Linked DNA regions of Homo sapiens: all the other regions are linked to region 1. Evidence: fine-mapped expression QTL. A gene starts in region 1. Each other region holds a variant in brackets. All regions are shown on one strand. Distances are between the middles of the regions. Region 1 holds the start of PJA2 (praja ring finger ubiquitin ligase 2). Region 2 overlaps PJA2 (praja ring finger ubiquitin ligase 2). Region 3 overlaps PJA2 (praja ring finger ubiquitin ligase 2).

Region 1 (8,310 bases):
AGAGTTTTCAAAGTTCCTGTGGACATCTCATTCTCCAGCTTTTCCTTTTGAGGTAGGAGATCAGCAGGATTTGTTTTTTGAGCGCTGGTCAATACCCCTGTCACTACTGCTCTTACCAGAGCAGGATCTGGTAGAAAACAGAGTGCAGTAAAGAAACCAGCTGAAACCAGCAAAGGGCAACAAAAGTGACCTCTAGCTGCCCACACTGTTCATTAGTATAAAGACACTCCTGCTGGGACCATGACAGTTTACAAATGCCATGGCAACAAGCCATGGCAACAGCCTGAAAGTTACCTTATATGGATCTAAAAACTCCTCACCTCTAGAAAGTTCTAATAATACACCTCTTAATTAGCATATAATTAAAAGTGGGTATAAATACAGCTTCCAACAGCCCATATGCTGCTACTCTGGGCACACTGCCCATGGGTTACCACTGCTTTGCAAGGAGCAGTATCTCTGCTGCTGCTGTACACTGCCACTTCAATAAAAATTGCTGTCTAACACCAGCAGCTTGCCATCGAATTTTTCCCTGGGTGAAACCAAGAACCTTCCTGGGCTAAGCCCCAGTTTTGGGGCCCTCTTGCCCTGCATCAGTTTTGAGTGTTTGGTTAAGCTGTATTTGGCCCCACCTGTTTCCACTGCCTAAGACAGTGGCAAAGTTAATCAATGTTTTTGTTTTTGACAAATGACCCCTGGGGAAAAGTCTTTGCACTGGGTGAGCCTGGAGTGAAATCAAACAAAGGCAGCCTTGTAAAATCTGCAGAACCACCAGATAGGTCAAATAATGACAGTTCTCTGGAAATTAAGCTCTTTAAAGGAGCTCCAACACCATTCTACTTCCCCTACTGGCTACCAGCCTGCTCGTTTTCACAATTGTGGGCTGTTGGTTTTCAAAGCTACAGTGGAGCTGGACATGTGGCTGTTAGAGTAGGGCAAGTCAAAATGACACAAAACTGGCTGTTCTTAGAGATTCAGCTATTTGAATAAATACTCCCTGGATTGCTGCAAACCTTTGGTAAATTTTCAGAGTTCTAAAAAAGTTAGTTCTGACAATTTTGCCAGTGTTCTCATTGCTGAAGAGAATTTTCAGAGGTCCTTACACCTTCATTTTGGCTGACATCACTTTAAGGCTATGATTAGAACATAGATCCTCTCACTCCTTGACCAAGCCTTCTTCTATTTAAATTAGTGGTCATCAAACTTTACGTATGTCAGAATTACCTGGAAGGCTTGTAAAAATACAGCTGGGCAACATACCTAGAGTTTCTGATTCAAGTCTGAGGTTGAACCTGAGAATTTGCATTTTATGTATTTATTTATTTTTTATTTTTATTTTTTTGAGACAGTCTCACTCTGTCACCTAGGCCGGAGTGCAGTGGCGTGATCTCTGCTCACTACAGCCTCTGCCTACTGGGTTCAAGGGATTCTCCTGCTTCAGCCTCCCGAGTAGATGGGACTACAGGCATGTGCCACCACGCCCAGCTAATTTTTGTATTTTTGGGTACAGACAGGATTTCACTATGTTGGCCAGGCTGGTCTTGAACTCCTCAAGTGATCTGCCCACCTCAGCCTCCCAAAGTGCTGGGATTACAGGCATGGGCCACCACGCCTTGCCAGAATTTGCATTTTTAAAAAGTTCCTAAGTAATGCTGATGCTGTTGGTGTAGGGATTATAATATACTTTAGGAACCACTGCAGTATATCATGTAGTACCTTCAATCCATTGCCTTAGATAGTGCTTCCCAACCCTGGAATCAACAATAATACATATAAGCGAATAATACATACTATTATCTCTATATAGTAATACAATACATAAGCTAATATGTATTTAGTACTTCATTGTAGGTATGATATGCTTTACATTGATTAGGTTATTTAATCTATACAACTCATGAATTGGTATTATTACTTTCCCATATTTATAATAAACTGGAAATCGAGGTCAGAGAACAAAGTAGATTGCCCAGAGGCACACGGCTACAAATGCAGGAGCCAGTATGTGAATATGTCTGCTTGATTCTAGAGTACAGGCTTTTTCAGCCTCCATACCAGTGTTTCTCATAGTAACATAGATCACTTATGATGCCTTGGTTAACTGTAGTTGGGACACGCATGCAGGATTAAAAACAATGACTCATATAGTGAGAAAGTGATTGCTATTCCGGCTCTATTTTTTCTATCCTTTGATGACATCATGATAAAAATACCATTTGAGTGCTGTATCTTTAATGTGTGTCTAATGCTTGGTAGCTTGCCCTTTTAACAAAGACAGTTGTCTTTAGACTTAGAGCCTTTAGTGGACAACAGTTTCTAGCCACAATTTAAAAACATTGTTTTGCATTCATTTTTCTTACAGTTACTTTCAACTTATAATAGGTGATGCTAGTTTTCCATTTATAGTACTTTTATAAAGTCTCCTTCTTAAAGAAATTAAAGAAAATATACATTTATTTAAAGAAAAAAGGACAGTGAGTAGTATACACAGATACAGTATGAAAAAGGTTGAAATTTGGGAATCCCTGCCTTCTAGAACAGGTTAATGTATCCAGTTGGGCCAATCTGGAACACCCTAAAGGGAAACTAGGGAAATGTAATTAAAATATGAATTTTGTTTTTTTTCAAAGAGGTACTTGGATGGTTAAAGTCAGAACTCCTATAGCAACACGTGTGAAGGCAGAGTAATATCAAGCAAGGAATGGTTTTTTGGTAAGAAACGTACTACAGGAGTGGGCTGGGATTCAGATTGGATTTCACAAAATGTCTGGCAAATTCTCATAAACCTAAATTTCTACAGTAAATTTTGGGTAATTTATTTCCATCAACAGCAAAAAAAAATTAGTCTCAGTTCACTGGCAAGAGAGTTCGCTGTTGTTAAGGGGACAGCACAAGAAGTGGGGCTCTTAATTCGCGGGGGAGGGGTGGCGATGAATATATCCTGGGCATCAGGCGACGGGTCGGGGGTGGGGAATAAGAGAAGACAGAGGGACTGTAATCAGATAAGCGGACACGTTTCAAGATGAATAAAGGGAATATGTGCGGAACGAAGAAACAGTTTTGTATCACTGACATAATTAACTAAACTGTTACCCAGGTTTAAATTAAGCAAGGTGTCCGGGGACTGCAGCTGTTGTATTTATTTTGGTTGCATGTGATGGGAGCTGTTACTTCCCGGCTTGACAAACAGCCTCAAGATGCAAGCTGGGAGGCTGTGGTCAGCCCAAGGCTATACAGAGGAAAGGCAGGCCTCCTCTGAACCCCGCCCCAGCAGAATAAGAAGCGAGGGGCAAGGGTCAGCGCGGAGAGGGAGGGTGGAAAGCGCCATATAGTGCCCAGGGTCAGGGTGGGTAAACAAGCCTTTCTTCGTGTCATTTTTTTTTTTTGTCTCACCGATATCTGCATTGTAACTGAACTTTATGCCAGGAGACCTTAACCTTGTTAATCAGGTTTCCAGTCGAATCAGGATCGATTTTAATGCCTCCATTTTGGTTGTTGCTGTTGGAATTTCCGAAAAAGCCTAACTGCGCCAGTCTTTCTGTTAGTTCTCCACACCCCCTTCCCTTTCCGAGACCCCGCCCTTTTCTCTCAGCCCAAACCACAAAAGGCCGCGCAGTTTTAGCTCCTACACGGTGCTCCGCCCCCTCCCCAAACGTCGCAGTACTGCAGGGAAAGGAGGTGGGCTCGGCTGGGGCGGGGGACTGAGTCGGCTTCGTCTTTCCGCTCTTCAGCCAATTGGTGAACTCCCCCTGAGGGAGATGGGGGAGCAGGCTGTAGAGAAGGTCCAAGTATTTTTCCCTTTTTCTGCCACGTCCCAACCATTGACGTGAGCCCACTCCTCAGGTTCTGATTGGGCGTATGCATTGTCCCCCAGCAGAGACCCTGTAAGCTGACTGGTCATCTCTGCTATGGGGGAGGGGCTTGCGTACTCTCCTCCTTCGCCTCCACCGCGGCGCAAGGGGCGGGACTCACCGCCACCGCCTCTGCTTCCGCCGCCGCCACCGCCGCCGCCGCCGCCACAGCCGCCAGCCGCTTCGCGTTCGGCGGGGGAGGAGTTGGAGGCGGAGAAGAAGGCGGTGGTGGCGGGTGGAGGTTCGAGCGCTGTTCTCGCTCCGGAGCCGCTGCACATTTCGGTGAGGGTTTTTTTTTTTTTTTTTCAGTCTGGCTTGTTCCGCTGTCGGGAGTGTGGGGGTCGGGGCGAGGAAATTGCTGCGTTCAGCTCCTCAGTTTCTCTGTCTCTAGCTTCGGAAGGAGCGGGGCTTGTCCCTGGCCTGCTGCGCCGGCCATGGTGGGTGGGGTTGATGGCTGTGGGAGGCCTTCTTCGCCTCCTGGGCCCTGTCCAGCCCGGACCCGGGCCGCGCTCCTATCCGGGACGGTCGCGCCCGCCGCCCCCCGACAGATGACATTGGTTGGTATCGGGGTCTTCGCTGCCGCTCTTTACTGCTGCCTCTTCTGCTGTCCTTGGTGACTTGGCCAAGGAGCCCGCTGGCTTTCCCCTACACTCGCCACTGTACAAGAGTTTGCCCCCCAACCAACACCTCACACCCACCTTCTGCGGTTTCCCGTCACCCCGCGTAGAGCGGAACCATCTTACGCCACAGGCCTGCAGCACCCCTCCCCCGAGGAGCCTTCTGTTGCCGTCGTTTTGCTGGGCGTCTGCATTTTCCCCGATTGTCAGTGAGGCTCGGCACGCAGACACCCCGCTCGAGCCGCAGCAGTCGCTCTACTCCCGGGATCAGCACCTTTCCGCCAGGGCTGCTCTCAGTTAGCGATGTCAGGCCAGAGCTCCTCTTGCAGATGCACCTTTAATTTGGCCTCCCTCAGATGACTGGTAATCATTTTGCGCACATTCAAAATGGTGAGGTTAAAGACGCTCAGACCAAGTTGAAGCAAAGGGGAGGTGGTAAATAGTCGTTTTGCAGGGAGGAGAGTAATCTGAGAGTTCCTTCTCCGGACATTAAAAAAAAAAAAATTTACATCCGCATAGGCGCTTCTTTTGAGTCTGCTGGTTCTGTGAAGTTTAAAATTTTCATTGCAGGCTTAATGTATTCTGTTTTATCATGAAATATTTGGTCACATTTCTTTAAAATGGCAGTCACCTTTGCTGAAGGCTACGGATCATTTGAAGTGTATGTGAATAAACCTGAGGATAACAGTAATAAACGTTTAAACTGTATTTTTCAGTGTTGTAATTGTCTTTTGGGGTTCATGTCATTTTTATATGAGATGACCACTTAATTTTAAAAATTCATTGCAGACATGCAAGTTTGATGTACACTTCAACAATATAAATAACGGACTGTTAGGTAAAATTTAAATATTTCTTTTCATCCCCCAGTCCCACTCCAGTGTAAAGTTGACAGTTTAGTGTTCATTTTTCAAAATCTTGCAAATGCACTTCTAGACACATACAAGTACACGTAAAGTTTTTTTTTTTGAGGGAGGCTATACCATATACCAAACATGTTTGCATACCGCTTGCTTATTGACTTAATTACATATGTTGGACATTTTTACTTTTTACATATAGGTCTCCCTAATACTTTTTAAAAGGCTAACTGGTATCTCGTGAGTTTGAATGGGCTATAATTTATTCTATTCCCTTTTTGAAAGACATTTAATTGCAGTTTCTTTTTGCTATTACAAATGATGATTTATAATGAAAATAACTTTCTAATTTATTGATCGATGTTTAATTACAAATTTTAATTCATCCTTGATTTTAAAAAATTAAACAGTATGGAAGAATGTAAGGTAAAAATTACCGCTTCCACTTCTAGTCCTGCTTGCATCTTGATTGTCAGCCACTGTTAACAATTCAGTAAACTTCCTCTATGTGTGATTATTTCTGGAGCATGGGTTCCTAGAAGTGAAGTTGCTCAGTTAAAAGATTATGCATATTTTAAATTTTGGTAACCCTTTCTCCCTCTTTATTACTCTTGTTGAAAATATTCTTGAATGTTTCTTATGCATTTCTTCTTCTAGGTAAACTTTAGACTGAACTAAAAATCCTTAGCTATTTTGAATAAGGTTATATTGAAATTTTAGATTAATTTGGAGACAACTGATCTTTATAGTATTGAGTCTCTCTCCTCAGAAATGTGGCCTCTCCATTTTATTCACATCTTGTTTTATACTGTTAGGGAAATTTTTATAGTTTTTCTTTTTTTTCTTCATACGTATAACATTCCTTCCTGGTATTCCTATTTTATGGTTTGATTCGTGTGGTGGATGGAAACTTTCAGTAACATTTCTCTCTCTCTGTTTTCTCTGGTTATAGCAAAACTTTTGAGTTTTCTATCATGTATCAGATTATTTTATTGAGTTGATTATCAGGAGATATTCACAGTTTTGTGGTTTCCTTTTCAGTTTTTATAACTTATGTGTTTTTCTCATTGCTTTTGCAATTATACATCTTATAAAATGTTGAGCACTGGTAGATTAAAAACTAATAGCACTGATAGCTAACAACAAACATGGCATTGTTTCTGACTTTAAGGGGGAATGCTTCTAATGTTTTAGCATTAATTATGATGTTTGGTGAAGCTTTCTGGTAAAGCCGCTGATATTAAAATATTTCCTTCTAGTCTTGGCTTTCCAAGATGCTTATGTTGTTGTTTTTGACATTTTTAAAAACCATAAATGAGTTTTCTTATATATATTTTTTTGACATCTTTTGAGGTGGGTATATGTGGGCATCACCAGTATTCCCTGGTTTATATTTTCCTGAGAGAGCACCCTCTTAGAAAATCAACCTTATTGAGGATAACTTAGATACAGTAAAATGTACTTATTTGAAATGTACAGTGTATTTTGTTTTGACAAATATGTGCTCTGTGACCACCACCACAGTCAAGAGTGGAATATTTTCATACCACAATTAAGATATAGAATATTTTCATCTCCCCCAAAGTTCCCTTTTGCAGTCAATCACAATTTCACCCTCAGGACTAGGAAAGCACTTATCATCTTTTTCTTGCTATAAATTGGTATCATTTTGTCTAGAATTTCATGTAAGTGGAATGATGTAATACATACTCTTTTGTATCTGGCTTTTTCTCTTGGCATGTTTTTCAGGATTATCCATGTTTTTCTGTATTTAACGGGTTCTCATTTTATTGCTGAATAGAAGTCCTTGGTATTGATTTACTAGTTTGTTGACCATTCCACCTATTTACAGATACTTGGATTGTTTCCAGTTTGGGGCTGTTATTAATAAATAGCCTTCATTTGTTGAACATTCCTTTATTCAATGAACATTCATTTATTTTGAATTTTTGTGAACATCTTTTTTTTCTTGGTAAATACCTAGACATGGAACTTGTTGGGTTGTATGATACATGGATGTTTATAAGAAACTGCCAAACTGTTTTCCAGAGTGGTTGTCACATTTTACATATCCATCAGCAGTGTATGACAGTTCCAATTGCTCCACATCATCCTCAGCACTTGGTTATTTCAGTCTTTTAAATTTTAGCCCTTTTAGTGGGTATATAGTAGTATCATACTGGGATTTTGATTTGCATTTACCAGATGACTAATGGTGCTGAGAATTTGCTCTAGTGTATGTCTTCCTTTGTGAAGTATCTGTTGACATTTTTTGCTCATTAAAAAACAAACAAACAACAATGGGTGGGCCTGGCGCGGTGGCTCACGCCTGTAATCCCAGCACTTTGGGAGTCCGAGGCAGGCGGATCACGAGGTCAGGAGATCCAGACCATCCTGGCTAACACGGTGAAGCCCCATCTCTACTAAAAATACAAAAAATTAGCCGGGCGTGGTGGCGGATACCTGTAGTGCCAGCTACTCCGGCTGAGTTAGGATAATGGCGTGAACCCGGGAGGTGGAGCTCGCAGTGAGCCAAGATCGTGCCACTGCACTCCAGCCTGGGCGACAGAGCGAGACTCCGTCTCAAAAAAAAAAAAAAAAAAAAATGGGTTTGTCTTATTGAGTTGTAAGCATTTTTTAATACATTCTTTATACAACTCATTTGACACACAGAGATACATAAACACACACACACACTGCAATCTGAAGCTTGTTTTTTTTTTATTTTCCTAACTTTAAAAGAAGAGCTTTTAATTTTGATAAATTCATCTTACCAACTTTTTCTTATGATTTGTGCTTCTGTGTTCTAAGAACTCTTTGCTTAATGCAAAGTTGTGCAGATTTACTCTTAGGATTTTTCTATAAGTTTTCTAGTTTTGGCTTTCATGTCAAGGCACATTATCCATTTTGGGTTAGTTTTTGTATATGGTGTGTAGTAAGGGTCAAGGCTCATTTTCTTTTCAAATGTATATGTAGTTCTAG
Region 2 (8,310 bases), 76 kb after region 1:
TAATATATGTTGTACAGCCTTGAATTGTACTTGAGACTTTGCTGTAACACAAAGTAACAGTCTCTTCAGTCTTTCTCCTGTCAGGAAATACCTTAGTGTGAAGCCTTTCCTGCTTTTTTTCTGGGGAGAATGTTCCCAAGATACAGTTCTTTGTTGCCTTCGACAGCATGATCTCTTCAGCCTCCCTTCCAGCAGGGAGTTCTCTTTGGGAAAAAGACCAGATTTGCAAGGGGATAATCTGTTATCAGATAACGTAGCTCTATAATCGTCCATTGGTCCTAGAATGTTGTGCTCCTAGTATAACTGCTTTCTCCTTCCCACCTTCTCTCCAAGGTCTGTGGTTGATTGTTTTGTCATTTAGAAGGCACCTAACACTCTTATCTCTTTTTGGAAAGAAATGTCATGGCTTAGAAAGAAAGTCTGAAGTCCATCTGCTTTGACATATCTGTGCTACCCTAAAATGAGGCTTTAATTTGCCATCGACCTACGTTAATTCATCGTAGACCTTCTTTAATTCACACCAAATCATAAATGATTTGGTGTGAATTAAAGTAGGTCTGTGGTTTCTCTAGTAAACGCATAATAGACTAAATAATGATAATTCAGATTATTGTTGAGCTAAACTCTGACCTCCATGTGGACATGTGCCATGATTCTTTGCTCACCCTCTGCCATTGCATCACTGCTGAGTTTAGCAGCTCTTAATTAAAACTCACTAAATTAAGGAGGATGAATGACCTTAAAGATACGAACATGAATAAGAGACATCATTTACCCTCAAAGAAACTAGAGTCTGATTGGGCAGGGAGGAAAAGGTATTAAAATTATGTCTTTCTGCATTGTGTGGATTTGAAGTTTGTTTTTTGTTGTTAAGAGTCTTATTATTAGGATAATGACACTGTTTTTTCTTTATTAAGTTACTTGTGTGGCAGTTAAGATGATTCTGGTGGCTCTTAACATTTTTTTTTTCTCCAGTCGGGAACATGCCCTGTGTGCCGCCGTCATTTCCCACCTGCGGTTATTGAAGCATCTGCAGCTCCTTCCTCTGAGCCTGATCCTGATGCCCCACCTTCAAATGACAGTATTGCAGAAGCACCCTAAACCTTGACAGTTGAAATGAGATCAGTGTATCAAAGTAAATCTGCAAATTCCTTCTAAATTTCATGTGCAAATAATTATATATAAATATATTTAAAAATGCTATATATAGTATATGCCATAGTTTAGAAAGAATATTAACCTTTCTAAACTAAATTTAGGTTTGCAGAAAGTATTAAACATTTTTAAGCTGAATGTTGAGACAGTGCATCCATTTTCTTTAGTTGAATATGTTTGTATTAATTGTAAAGCCAAGCTTATCAGTTGACTCTCTCCAGAATAAATAATCATCTGTGTGGCATACGTTATTGGCTTTGTCTGTAATACTGCCACTAAGTGATTATAATTAAGCTGTCCTGTTTGCATCAAATGTAAAGACTGTGTTCACAACCGTAGTAAAATTTGGTTTCATTGGAAATGAAACAAATTCTAAAGTATGCTTTTTCACTAGTCCCTTTGATTTTGCTATATCATAACCTCTTGGTTCATATGCTGAGAAATTTTTCAGAAAGTCCATTTTTGTTTAAAATTAGAACTTTTCAGAATGCCAAATGAAGGCTAAAATTTTGGCCAGAACATTACAAAAGTTTTAAATCGTAGACGTAACTCCCCCTGAAATAAAGTTAGGTAGTAAAATCCTTAATGAAACCAGTGGATGTGCTTAACGTAAGGTTAGTAAAGCATACAAAGAATCTAGTGTGCTCAGGGCTTGGTACAATGAGCTGAATTAGATGGCCTTATGAAACTCTTTCTAACCTCTTACCCAACCTGTTTCTCCTTGGTTAAAATTATACTTGAAGGCCCAGAACACTCATGGCACATTTGTTTAATATTGCTTATAGTTAGTTTAAGGTAATTTTGCTTCTACAGTATTTTGGAAGGTCTGAAAACTTGCACAGGGTCATCTTTGTAATTATATAACCCCAAACTAAGATGCACAATGTCTCCTTCAGGTGATCACACACAGTGGACGAGTATGTGCAAACATGGACATAATAGTTCACTTACAAATGTGATTTGATGTTAACACTAGAGAATGATGACTGTAGAACATTTGAGCAAGTAAAATAGTAAAGCACATAGTGAGTGTATGTCCGTCTAACTGGTACATTGATAATTTAGTTTGGGCACATAAAAGGAATATTTATATGGCTTCCCAAATGCAGAGTTACATCTTATTCGTGTATTTCTCTGAGTATTTATATCCCGTCTCCTTTTTTCATTCTTAAAAATAAATGAATTTTCACTGTTGGCACATATGAGGCTTAAATATAAGGAACATAACACTTGCATTCTAATTTTTGCATATATTGTAAATGTGTCTGGTATTTACAGCAAAATACTGTGTATCCTTTTATGGGTAAAACAAAAGTGAACATTGCATGCATGTAATGTGATGAATTTGTAATTTAGGAGTTCTTTGGGGCTTCTGTGACTTGGGAAATGCTTACATTCAGGCCTTAATGTTGCATTAGCTAGCATGTTTTCCCTCTGATGTATATAGTCACTGTTGTATAAACTAATCTTTGCTTGTTTTCTACTCTGTGATCTTTCCATATCATATTTCATTAATGATCAGTTAGTGTCAAGGAGTCAAAACAGATTAAAATTAATTTCATGTGTATATGGTGGAAATTTGTGGCTAGTGTGATTTTTGTTTGTTTCCTTTTAAGTACTGTTGATCAGTTGTGACACTTACTGGTTAAACTTACGTTGCTAAAGATTTCTCTATAATAAGCCACACATTATATTTAGACTATATTAAGGGACCTTGGTTTTCTTCTAGATAGCAGCTGTCCCAAAGAAAATATTTCTTCTTTGTCTGTTAAGATTTAGCTATTATCTGCCAGTTGTTAAGAGGTTTTGGTTCCAAACTCAACCAGCAATGTTGAGAGCTGAACTTAAGATAGCTGTTGTACTTTTTGCTTTCCATCTGTTACTGTCCTTCATTCTTGGCTCCCTACTATCTATAAACAGCTGCTGTGAAGAAGAAAAGTTGAATAAGAGTTGGCTTAAATTTTAAAAAAGAAAAAGAAAATTGAGGTTTTAGGATTTTCATGGTAACAAGCTCTGGTATAAGCTAAGGCTGGCAAGTTCAGATACTAAAATATTATTTGATCATATCTTGGATCCTTTTGAAAAAGTTAAGACTATATGAAGGTAAATTAGAAATAAGTATGAATATTAATAAAATAGCATTTATCTTATTTCTCTATTTTATGTTGTGACTTAACCTAATTTTATTTTTTTAACATTTTCTTATTTCTTATAATATGAATGCTGATATTTAAAGGTAGATCTATGTGGTATTCTTTGTGTTTCTTAATTGTTTAACTCTTAAGATTATTTGTGATCTGGATTTATGTATTTGTTAGATACATACGAATTGTTAAAATGGAATGCAAGTTTTTCAAAAGCCCAGGTCTAAATGTAATGGTTGGTTTATTGTTCTATAACCCCAGCCCATCATTTTCTGTGTAAATCATAAACAATAAACAGAATATACTCGGTGGTCATTTCTAATATTTAATTGTGTAATTGTATCACTTCTATAATGTAACCCCTGAAGGATTTAGAGTTAATGACAGATAACACTACTGAGCATGTGATGTTAGAAGTCCTTGAACTATAATCTAAGAAAGCCCTAGAAAGAGCCAGACAGAAGTAGTTGATGGACTTCCTACTGCTGGAGGGTCTCTGAGTCCTTGCCCTCTCCTCCCTGACATCCTTAGCTATCCCGTAGGTTTCAGCAGAACCTGATTTCCACACTGACTCCGGACTGCAGAAACCCTTAATAAGGAAGGGAGCCCACCTCACATCAGTGGTTTTCTCCAAATCAGGCATGGAAATATTATTAAATCTAACTGTTTAGCAAGATTCCTTGTGGTTCTCAAACAGTTCAGAGAACTCAGTCATTTCAGAAGGGTCAATTGGGTGCTGATAAATTACGCAATTCAATTAGACAAAGACTAGCCAGGCATGGTGGTGTGCACCTATAATCCCAGCTATTCAGGAGGCTTGAGGCAGGAGGATTGGTTGAGACCAGGAGTTGAAGAGCAACCTGGGCAACATAGTGAGACCCTATCTCAAAAAAATTTACAAAGTTGGATAAAAACTAATCATTTTGTTTAGATGCTTAGAAAGTTTAGAATTCTGATTCTCCTCTAATAGATTAAATATGTACTAGAAAAATAGTCTCAGAGCTGGAAACATCAGTGGTATACCTCTACTGTTGATGTTTTTATAATTTCATCATCATTTTCATTCAGCCACTGCTGGATGGAGCCATTCAGCACCCCTGCAAGGGATGAATTTCATTGTTGGAAGATTGTCACCAAATTTCTCTATAAACAGCACACGTGAAATTAGAAAGTC[C/T]TGTTTCTCCTGTGTGGTCACCTCTTCATATCCTTCTTCAGGCTTCACGCTTTCTGAAATCTTACATGGTATCTATTCCAGACCAGCCTAGAGTTGGCTCTTTCACTCCTTCTCTTAAAGTATGTTGCTCAGAATTAAACACAGTTCTGTGGTCGAACTAGGGCAGGGTTCAGGAGCACTGTTGCCACCTTCAGAGTGATTCTCCTGTGGCTGTTATGGTTGGTATATGTTATTATTACCACCATCATTATTAGCCAGGCTGTCATACTGTTTGCTGTCTCTTGCTGAGCTTCACAGGTATTGCTGGTAAGCCAAGTCCCCGCCTAATCTTTACTTAAACAATCTCTTATTAACCTAATTGAAGGACAGCATTCATCCTTACTGAATTTGATTTGTGAAGGTTCTTGTGAATTCAGGTTTTTCGTCTTAGCCTTGCATCCATTCCAATTTTGATAAAGCATACCTTTGGTATGTAGTGGCTTTGTCTAAGTTGTTGATACATGTTGAATTGAATGGGATGCAGTACAGACCCTCTTTAGAATGCCACTATACACTGCACTTAAGGTGAGTGATCCGTTAATTAGTAATTTGGTTACAGTTGTTGCGGTAACTACCAGTCACTTCATATGCCCGTTTCTTCATCTTTCCTAAAAAGGACACTAAAAATTTTAGTGTGTTTGGCAGACAGATGCACTATGCACTGTCTTTGGAAGTAGCCTAATGTACTAGTATATTAAAGAAAGGAAATGAAGTCAGCTGGTAACGCCTCATTCTTAATGAAACCATACTGCCTCTTTTTCTAACTCCTTACGTGACATCTGTTTAATAATCTGCCTTAGAATTTGTTAAGTGATCAATGTCAAGCTCATTTTAATAATTTTTGGAGTCCGCCTTTTCCCATCTCAAAATTGTGGTGTTTGAAATAACATGACCTTGACAAAGTCACGTAATCACCCTGCTTCTGTTTTCTCTATAAAGTAATGAATCTAAATTATAGGTTCAGTACTACCACTATTTGTGCATGAATAAGGGTTTGAAAAAAATGTTTTTCATTGATGTGCAAAGTCATAGGGAAATATGTTATACTTGGTTTCCATCATTGTTTATAGCACCACTTTTTGGAGAATGATGAACATTTCAGATAAAACACTCTTAAAAACATATTAATTACCTTTCAAGAGTTGAGAATTTGACGGGAACCTTATTAAGTCAAAATAAAGTGTAATTTTCATAATATTAATTATGAAACCTAACACTAATATAGTTGGTAATTTATTGCATCTTATATTATTAGTATATAATCAATATACAGTTTTTATAGTGAACATTGACAGGGAGGAGGTCTTTATTTTTTTAGAAAGATACTTCTTACTGTCAGTAATTTCCTTAGATTATAACAATGTTTCTTCTTACGAAGATTCATTTTTAAATGCATTTTTACATTATAATAATAGTTTCTATTTATGAAACACTAAATATTAGGCATAGTGTAGGCTTTCTATCTTATCTCATCTTCATAATAAGTCTGCAGGGTTGATTTATTGTCTCAACTTTACAAATTAAAAAAAAAAAATGAGCCCCAGACATGGTCAAAGAGCCCTGGTTCTTAAAGGAGATGCTGTCGGTTCTGTCCACTTCATGCTGCCTTCCTGAGTAGGAACAGCTTACCTGATCAGTGTTATCAGTGTTATTATTTAAGTACATTGCTTGAGATGCAGTCTGTTTTGTTTTTTTTGTTTTGTTTTATCAGAAAAAATTAGGATCTGTTCAGAATTTTGAGAAATATTTTTTCCTTGCTATATTATTTTGCTAACATGTTAAGATATTTGTGTACTGATGACCAAGATTCTAATGTGGCCCTGATTAGTGAAGTTTCTTAGTCACCAGTAAGATCTAATGAGAACTTCCTACCTTTGCCTGGTAATCTGGGATTCTTAAACTGTTCTGCAGAGACTGTCCCAGGCCTGAAAGGTGTATAGCATCCTGTTGTCTCTTAGCCATCAAGAGCTAACTATCCAGACATCTTTCTACAAGCAATTTGTGCTACCCTTTCCAAAGGTCTGGATTTCAGTTCCTCTAGAAGCCATGGACATCTGCCCTCCACAACTGCAAATACTCCAAAGAGTACAGAACCTACTCCCAAGTTGTTTTATTCGTAGGAAGAGACACTTGACAGGGGCTTTCCTTTTGATTTCAATCCTTAATAAATGCCATTTTAAATTCTTTTTTAAAGAATTCTTTAAAAAATCCAGCCGTTTACATTGTGCCCTAGTTCTGTTAGTCTAGTCCCAATGACTTGTGAAGAGAACCCAACTGTTACAGACAGCTGTTAAAAGGGGCTTCTCTACATGCCATCATACCGACTAGCTTTTGGCCCCAACAAATAATTCTTCCTCCTTACCTGGACCAAGGATCCCCCAACCCTGGTATTGCAGTATTCTAGGTTTGGTGCCATTCTAGAGTGTTAGACTTTTTATTTCCGTTTAAATTGACCTTTAAAGCGGATGAAGATAGGGATGAGGAGCTTACAAGATCAGCCTTGTCTGGGAAGCAAGCTCAGCCTCAATTGGATGACGAAGCTATTCACAAGTGAGCACCTTGGTTACAACCCACATCTAAATGAGTAAATACTACCTGAAAGAAAATGTTTAAAAATTTTCAAATTAGGGAGCTTATGAAAATAGTATATTAGGACATATAAAATGGGAATACTTTCTCAATCCACTGAAAAACACCTTCATTAAACCCAACAAATTAAATATTTGTATAACCTGAGCTGCTGTCCATTTAATGTTTACAAAGTGCCTACTCTCACAAACCTGTGAACAAAATAGACAAGATCCCTGGCCTCCTGAAGTGTCCATTGTAATGAAGAGACTGTTAGCGTGCCCACCCCCAGCACAGCTGGATTCACTCAGTAGAGAGGATTTCATCTTAGCTTGGGGAATGCCTGACACACAGAGCCTTAGTGTCTCTTCTGTGATTACCAAAGCTAGAAACAAAAGCAAGGAAAGAATGAGCCCCCTAAGGTGACTTTAGCTACCAGCACCTACTCTCAAGCCCAAAGGATCTATAGCTATATTGAGATAGTTATAGGTTGAAGGGTTGAACCCATCTCCTAAGAGGTCGTATGCCCTATGGACCACAGCAGGCCATGATGACTTACAACCAGGGAAATTTGAAAAGAATTTTTCTTTTTTTTTTTTTTGAGATGCAGTCTCACCCAGGCTGGAGTGCCATGGTGCGATCTCGACTCACTGCAACCTCTGCCTCCCCGGATCAAGCGATTCTCCTGCCTCAGCCTCCTGAGTAGATGGGATTACAGACATGTGCCACCATGCCCCCCCTAATTTTTGTATTTTTAGTAGAGATGGGGTTTCACCATGTTGGTCAGGCTGGTCTCAAACCCCTGACCTCAGGTGATCCACCTGCCTCAAGCCTCCCAAAGTGCTGGGATTACAGGCATGAGCCACCAGCGCCAGCCAAGAGTTTATTTTCTGGAGATGGGGGTGAGTTGAATAGAATAACCAAAACTCCAGTGTTTGACCTTATATCCTGTGCTTTATTTTTGCTTGTTTTCTCCCTGTGCTACAGCATTCACACATATGCATCCAGTGTGGTTTTATCCAGAAAATAGAACATAAAGCAGGCAATTCTGAAGCACGGCTTTTCTGCTGGTCATGTAGGCTCTGATACAAAATATTGTATAATTTTTTTTGTAACTATGCTGGCGTACCAGCACTAACACAATGAACCCTGCAAACTGTCTTACTAAGGGCTTAATAAGGAGTAAGCATCATTGTAAAATTGGCAGACTTGCTGTATTATGACTCACAG
Region 3 (8,310 bases), 58 kb after region 1:
AGTTGGTATTAAAATATTTTAAGGTCTTCTGTTCACAGCATGTTTATCGGCTTGTCAGTATGCTAATATAATTATGTCCTCAGCATAAGATTTCCCAAATCATAGTGGTGAGTTTTTTCTGTTATTTTTTTTTTTTTTCAGCCTATTTGATGGCTTTGCAGATGGACTAGGAGTTGCTGAAGCTATTTCATATGTGGATCCTCAGTTCCTTACCTACATGGCACTAGAAGAACGCTTAGCCCAGGCTATGGAGGTATGTTCATAACTCTGATCTCCATATATAAGTTGATGGGATACAAAATGATAAAGGTTTAAAGGGATTTTTAGACTACTCTTAAGAAAAGGTGAATCTTTTTCCCATCAGTTTAGTAACAGTTATTGAATAATAATTGTCACCAGTATGTGCATACAAATTATACTTGATGTCCTGCTAGTTTGCCTTAAATTTCAGTATTTCTCAGTTTTTACTGCAGAATGGAAAATGTTTTGCTTACATTTAGAAAATATACTTTTTTCTCTATTGAATTATACAAGTATGAGAGTGAATATCTTATATACACACGCACAGGTGTATTTGTGAAATGCAGTTGAAGCTAAGGATATATTACAAATCTCTTTTTTTCTCATGGCTTCTAAATACTATCTGGCTGCCTAATGCAGTTAGGAAATTTGCTCCTCCTTATCCCAGCAAACATATACACACTTTAATAAGTGGGGCATATTTGCTGCCTCAGCTTCTCTTGCCTTCTTTTCATTATTTAACTAAAACAGAAAAACCTGTTCTTAAATGTATTTGCCTAAGTTCAAAGCCCAAGTATTTTCATGTTTGGGAACTACTACTGTACCAGTGGATTTCATTAAAAGAAGTCCTTTCAAATCACTATTTCCAAAGTGATTTCCAAAATATAGGTACAGAAATGACTGGTGAATGAGCCACAGGTGAGAGAACAAAAAATTGGCAAGAACTTTTAGGAGCATTATAATATATTTTGTCTTTAAATTTTCTGAGATTAGAAAGTCCAGTTTGTATATTTATTTATTTTTGAGACGAGATCTCACTCTGTCACCCAAGCTGGAGTGCAGTGGTGCAGTCATAGCTTACTACAGCCCTGAACTCCTGGGCTCAAGCAATCAGCCCACCTTAGCCTGTCCCAGGTAGTGGGGACTACACATACGGGCCATCAGACCTGGTTTTGGTTTTTTGTGGGGTTTTTTGGTAGAGATAGGGTCCAATTATGTTACCCAGGCTGGTCTCAAACTCCTGCCCTGAAGCAGTCCTCCCACTCTGGCCTCCCATGGCACTGGGATTATAGACATGAGTCACCATGCCCAGCCAGAAAGTCTAGTTTAGATTGACAAGTTAGATAGCAGGTACCTATCTAATATTGATATATTTAATAATATATTTATATATCTAATATATTACCTCTCTCTAATATATAATATATATTAGATATATCTATTAGATAAATTTGTCTTTAAATGATCTCTAATATATTGTATATTATATATTAGATATATAACATATATCTAATATATCTAATATCGATAGATATTAGATATCGATATGTAATATCGATATAGATATCTATAGATATTATAGATATCTAATATCGATATAGATATCTATAGATATTATAGATATCTAATATCGATATAGATATCTATGATATTATAGATATCTAATCTATAGATATCTCTAGATATCATAGATATCTAATCTATAGACATCTCTAGATATCATAGATATCTAATCTATAGATATCTCTAGATATCAGAGATATCTAATCTATAGATATCTCTAGATATAGATATCCAATCTATAGATATCTCTAGATATCATAGATATCTAATCTATAGATATCTCTAGATATCATAGATATCTAATCTATAGATATCTCTAGACATCATAGATATCTAATCTATAGAAATCTCTAGACATCATAGATATCTAATCTATAGATATCTCTAGATATCATAGATATCTAATCTATAGACATCTCTAGATATCATAGATATCTAATCTATAGACAGCTCTAGATACCATAGATATCTAATCTATAGATATCTCTAGATATAGATATCTAATCTATAGATATCTCTAGATATCATAGATATCTAATCTATAGATATCTCTAGATATCATAGATATCTAATCTATAGATATCTCTAGATATCTATCTAATCTATAGATATCTCTAGATATCATAGACATCTAATCTATAGATATCTCTAGATATCATAGACATCTAATCTATAGATATCTCTAGATATCATAGACATCTAATCTATAGATATCTCTAGATATCATAGACATCTAATCTATAGATATCTCTAGATATCATAGACATCTAATCTATAGATATCTCTAGATATCATAGACATCTAATCTATAGATATCTCTAGATATCATAGATATCTAATCTAGATATCTAGATATAGGTATCTAATATATAGATGTCTGTAGATATAATAGGTATCTAATATATAGATGTCTGTAGATATAATAGGTATCTAATATATAGATATCTATGATATAGGTATCTAATATATAGATGTCTATGATATTATAGATATCTAATATATAGATGTCTATGATATTATAGATATCTAATATATAGATATCTATGATATTATAGATATCTAATATATAGATATCTATAGATATTATAGATATCTAATATATTAGATATCTATAGATATAGGTATCTAATATATAGATATCTATATATAGGTATCTAATATATAGATGTCTATAGATATAGGTATCTAATATATAGATGTCTATAGATATAATAGGTATCTAATATATAGATGTCTATGATATTATAGGTATCTAATATATAGATATCTATAGATATTATAGATATCTAATATATAGATGTCTATGATATTATAGGTATCTAATATATAGATATCTATAGATATTATAGGTATCTAATATATAGATATCTATAGATATTATAGGTATCTAATATATAGATATCTATAGATATTATAGATATCTAATATATAGATATCTAGATATAGGTATCTAATATATAGATGTCTATAGATATAGGTATCTAATATATAGATGTCTATAGATATAATAGGTATCTAATATATAGATGTCTATGATATAGGTATCTAATATATAGATATCTATAGATATAGGTATCTAATATATAGATATCTATAGATATAGGTATCTAATATATAGATGTCTATAGATATAATAGGTATCTAATACATAGATGTCTATGATATTATAGGTATCTAATATATAGATGTCTATAGATATAGATATCTAATATATAGATGTCTATGATATTGTAGATATCTAATATATAGATGTCTATAGATATTATAGATATCTAATATATACATATCTAATATAGATATCTATAGATATTAGATATCTGTCCATCTGTGCACACACATGCATGCATATACATGTTCACATACATTTATGCTAGCTCTGCTTTGTCATCACTTTTTTTACATATATAACTGTCCATGGAGATTGCTTTCAATTACGCTTTATGGTGAGTGTTTTTCTCAAAGTAACCATAGCAGAAATACTCTATACTAGGAAAAAAGTCAGAAAGAACATCATGAGATAGGATACAATTAGGATTTTTGCCAAATTATTTAACCTGCCTTGGCAAATTCTGACACATAAGAAATAATGGTATAGCATGGTAACTTGCATCAGAAATACATAAAGATTAAGGATCACTCATTTCGTTGTGCTAAATAACTCTTTGAGTGATCTGTTCTAGGGTCTGATTTCACAACATTTAGTCTTTCATTTTATGCTAGTGGTTTATGATTTCCTACAATATGGAGATAACTTTAAAAAGAAGTGTTGAGAATAAAATGTTTTAGTATTTATTACTAGTGGGGAATGTGACATTTGGCATCTTGAAAGAAGAGCCAGAGAGACTGGTCTTGAGAGGTCATGCTAAGTAAAGGCACTAGCAGTGAACTAAGACAAAAGGCAAGCAAGAGCTTGCAGTCTCAAACATTGTTGGCTTCTACCAATAGTGAACTCAGTGGCATTATTCCTACCAGTCTATACTTCTGCCTGTGTTTAATGGCTTTAAGCATCTCTCTCCTCTAAAGCTTATCAGCTTCTTCACATTTTAGTGCTCTGATTTAATTTATTTGAATTTGATTGAGATGTTTCACTCCTAGAAAATCAATACAGTTGTCTTCCTGTCACTCTTCAGAAATCTGTTTTTCTGTGTTCAGTATGCATTTATTTAATCATTTTTTAAAATGAAACAAAAATAATTTATGATTATTTCTTTTATATTTAACACTAACACTCTTTAAATGAAACAAAAACAAAACAAACTGCTTGTTTTTGTTTGTTTGTTTCTCAAGCAGCCCTATAACTTTTTGGAAGTAGTTGCTTTCATTTCTGTTATTTTCCCAATACTAGATTGGTCATTGTTTTCAGGTAGTGGCTTTTGGTGAAAATACTGGCAGTATGTATTTGTCTCCTTATATCTGTGTCTCTAATTTGAGTGAGGAGAGGGTAAAACCTTAAAC[A/G]TCTTTAACCTTTTGAAACTTTTCTACTTTTCAAAATGGATTTTGAAAAAATCCCCTTGCACATTTATGTTGACATCTAAAATTTTTCAGCATAAATCTAGGTAGTATTAGTTATTTTATCATACTTCTTCGCTAGAAAAATGTTTAAAATTTTTAATATAAAAAGTGGTTAAATTGAGTTACAATTAATAGTATCCAAATAATCAAAAATAAATTATGAATTTTGGTAAGTGTTTTGTAGGAAGTGAATCTAATGAGATGGAGGCATTTTCCTTTCCCAGTTATGAGTGAATTTTATTTATTACCGGAATGAGACATATTTCAGCATAAATTTACTTCTGATTTTCATCTTATGAATGTAAGGTTGAAAAACGTTGTTCACCTAAATAAATTAATAGGAATGGAAGGAGTTTATTATGGCATTGTCACTGAATTCTTTTGAGATATTTGCCCAGAATCACATCAACTTGTCTAGATATTCTTTAGATTCCTTCCGTTTTTTTTTTTTTTTTAAGCAAAGGATTGGAAGCCACCCAAAAGATTTGTTACTTAGTCATTAGAGTTCAGTTCTACCTCAGTACTTCAGATTGTCCCTGTGAATGGGTAAGAAGTATGCTTTTATTTATAAAGTGGAAGAAAGGCAAGTATAAACAGAATGTTAGAACAGAGAACCAGCATGATATACTGCAGGTGCATTCTTATGTGGATCAGTTCGAAGAAAGATTTTACCTATGAAAGCTTATTGAAACTGATTATCTTAAGACTGTCCATACCCACGGGCCCCTTGTAAAGTCTTTACATACTCACAATAGCACCTGTATACACCCAGGTATAGGCACTAGGAAGGCTGTAATGTGGAGGTTTAGAAGGTGGGCTTTTGTGTTAAAGAGTTTGGCTGTGTGACCTTGGACAATTCACTTAACTTCTCTGAGCTTTAGCGTCTTCATTTACAAAATGGGAATAATAAAATCTACCTGATGGGTTATTGTGAGATTGTGTTAAAGCCTTTAGCAAAATACCTGGTTGTATTGGGAATCTCTCAGTAAATAGTATATTCATATAGGTTTATTCAAATCAATAGTCAACTAACTGGTGTAATCAGTGAACAAATCTGGATTCAGTGGTGATCATTCAGAATCGGTATTACTATCTTCGTTCTTTAAAAACTGAATTGTATTTTATTCTTTAGAACAAAATTTTATGCTGATAAAGGATTATGCTACTTTAAACCTACATGTATTCTAGATAGGGTGATTTAGGCTAGTTGTCTTTCTGCCTCTTCGACTAACTATTGTAAATACATTGTACTGCCTAAAGGTATAGATAGTTTTTTTTTTTTTAATTTTTATAGATTTTCATACTAGTGGCTTAAAAGGCTATCTTTTGCTTGTGTTGCTTATAAGTGATCCTGGATCATCTTAAATATATGACAGTACCAAGGCAATAAATTATTTTTACATATATGAAATTTCAGGTGTTACTAGCACTGCAAATATGCAGATAATCATTAGAAAGAGATAATGAACCCATTGAGACAAACATATATCAAAGCATAATTAGCCTGGAATAACCTCCCCAAATGAAAGTTACTATAAATAACATCCCTTATTTCTGTTTATGTGTAGCACAAATGAGTTCTTGCAAGCAGGTTCTATCTTGAGTAGTACATATGGGGAATTGGAGGAGATTCATAATTATAGCTATGTGAGAAGGAAAGGGACTGATAACAGGATCTTACCTTCCATTTCCTATCTTGCAATGGGAAAGTTCAATATAAGGAATTCTAAACTAGAACAAAGAAGTAGAGTAACAAGGGATTGGCTAGGAGGAAATAAAGATAATTACACAGAATATGGGAAAAGCGCATATAAGGAGCAGCCACCACCTGTCTGGCAAAGCTAGGACAACCCAAGGAAGAGTCCCTAGTCCATCTCAGGGCTGAGGTCACCTTGATGGAAATGGCACAGCTGTGGCTTGCTGTATGAGAGAGAAGTCACTTGGGTATGTGCTGGTGAAACTTGCTGGAAGTCAGCTCTCTTAGGGTGCTGAGGAAAGCTATTCATAGGAAGGTTTCTAACTGGAAGTGCTGTACTGCAGAACTGTCCAACATGGATGCTGGGGGAGGCTGCCACCTACTAAGTGCATTACAGGAACTGGCTGCTAGAGAAGCTGTGTGCACTGAGTCTAGTGCTAGAGAAAGCCACGAACATCACTCTAGTCCCAGTGTGCTCTGTCAAGCAAGCACACTGGGACAGAAGGAAGGCCCTTTCCTCCAGCAGTGTTCTTCAACATCCTCTGTGAACAAAGCTTAGCATCATGCCAGCTGTTAGGAGGGAAAGTATTTAAACAGCCCAGATTTTCACAGAGCCGACACAATAGTGAATATGGATTTGTGGAGCAATAATTCCATAAATGGAACATTCCAGCACTTTGATAACTTGGCTTCCATATATACCTTTCAATGCACATTTAAATTTCCATCCATCAATAGAATTGTATTTCCACCCAACAAAATACAGCTATTACTACAAATGAAGTTTCACCCATTTCCCAGAATGAGCAGATGGCTAGTTCCAAGAGGCATTGTATCCATCGCTAGTTATGCATTACTCCACACATTCATAGTAACACTGAATATTCTCTTATATAAAGACTAAATTGCAAATTTAACTTCCAACAACTGGCATATTGAAATAGAAATGGGAAAGAGGAAAAGTAAACTGTTAACATATATAAATAAGCAGATACATAAAACAAGCACATAAAATATGCAGAATTACTAATCCTTGTTCTGTATTTGCTCATGAGACTGAATGATAGCTATAACTTCTTTCTTCCATGACCCAGTCATATTTTCCCTGCCCTCAGCCAGAAGCTCACTCAGCTGGTTAGGATTCTTTACTTGGTAGAATAACCCAGACCTACACTGTTTATATCTTCAGTTCTTTCTTTTTTTGTCTGCTGTAGTTCTGGTAACTTTACTGTTGGGCATGAAAGCAGTAAGAGATTCACACTCCAGGTGAGATTATCACAGGGTTTTCAAGCAGAGGAAGCCTAGTCTGTGGAGGGCACACTGTTTCTACTGGTAACAGGAGGCTCAGAGTGACTTGGGGATTCAAAGTTATCAGTTTCCTCAGAGTTCAGTCAGATGTCTTCATTCCAGGTTTCAGAATCTTATTCCTTAACCAATCAATGGTAAAACTTTTGAGAAATTTGATGAGACTAAGAAGTCAACTCTAATTTTCATTTAGCAATCCACACAATTACATTTTGCGTTTGATTTTTAGGAGCAAGAGCATCTTTTAGGGCTGTCGTGGATGCTTTCTGGCTCTCATACCCTATTGTGAGGTTTAAGAGACCTGAGTTTGTAATTTTTTTCTGTAAGTGCACAAGGGCACTCTTAATAATCCATCTCACATCACGATTTTTACAGTTAGATCACTGTTGCCGTAAGATCAAGTATAGGAGCTATCTGGGCTTTCAAGACACATGCTTCAGTTGGATCTTCATCACTGTCAACCACAGTGATACCTTGATTAATTGTGATGCCACTACAGACTATGGATTAATAGCATCCCATTCTCATTGGCAAGGAGCTCAACACTGAGCTCAAGCTCAACAGGTGTAACCAAACCAACCCCCAAATCCTTTTCTTGCCAGTTCTGTGTCCCGGGACCACTCTTAATATGAATTCTGTACCAGTCTGAGTTCAGTCCCAAGAGAGAGAAATACAGTAATTTGAACAGGGAAAATTTACTGTAAATATTAACT

What was found. PIP is the estimated chance that this variant, and not a neighbour inherited with it, causes the effect. A credible set is the group of variants that fine-mapping cannot tell apart.
Region 2: its variant is the best candidate, but not a certain one, in a credible set for the expression of PJA2 in whole blood (INTERVAL, PIP 0.89).
Region 3: its variant is the best candidate, but not a certain one, in a credible set for the expression of PJA2 in whole blood (INTERVAL, PIP 0.57).

What each region holds. Positions count from the first base shown.
Region 1 is chr5:109,405,665-109,413,974 of GRCh38, reverse strand. It overlaps PJA2 (praja ring finger ubiquitin ligase 2), which reads left to right and starts at 4,001. Exons shown (of 10, transcript NM_014819.5): 1 at 4,001-4,133. RefSeq lists enhancers at 3,367-3,546, 4,657-4,776, 4,817-4,916 and a silencer at 4,057-4,136.
Region 2 is chr5:109,330,022-109,338,331 of GRCh38, reverse strand. PJA2 (praja ring finger ubiquitin ligase 2) reads left to right here. Exons shown (of 10, transcript NM_014819.5): 10 at 976-3,610. The coding sequence ends at 1,101. Among named protein-coding and RNA genes, the nearest start is that of PJA2, 76 kb to the left of the region's middle. RefSeq lists a silencer at 1-284. The variant C/T (reference allele first, on the strand shown) is at 4,474.
Region 3 is chr5:109,347,858-109,356,167 of GRCh38, reverse strand. PJA2 (praja ring finger ubiquitin ligase 2) reads left to right here. Exons shown (of 10, transcript NM_014819.5): 7 at 142-253. Among named protein-coding and RNA genes, the nearest start is that of PJA2, 58 kb to the left of the region's middle. The variant A/G (reference allele first, on the strand shown) is at 4,540.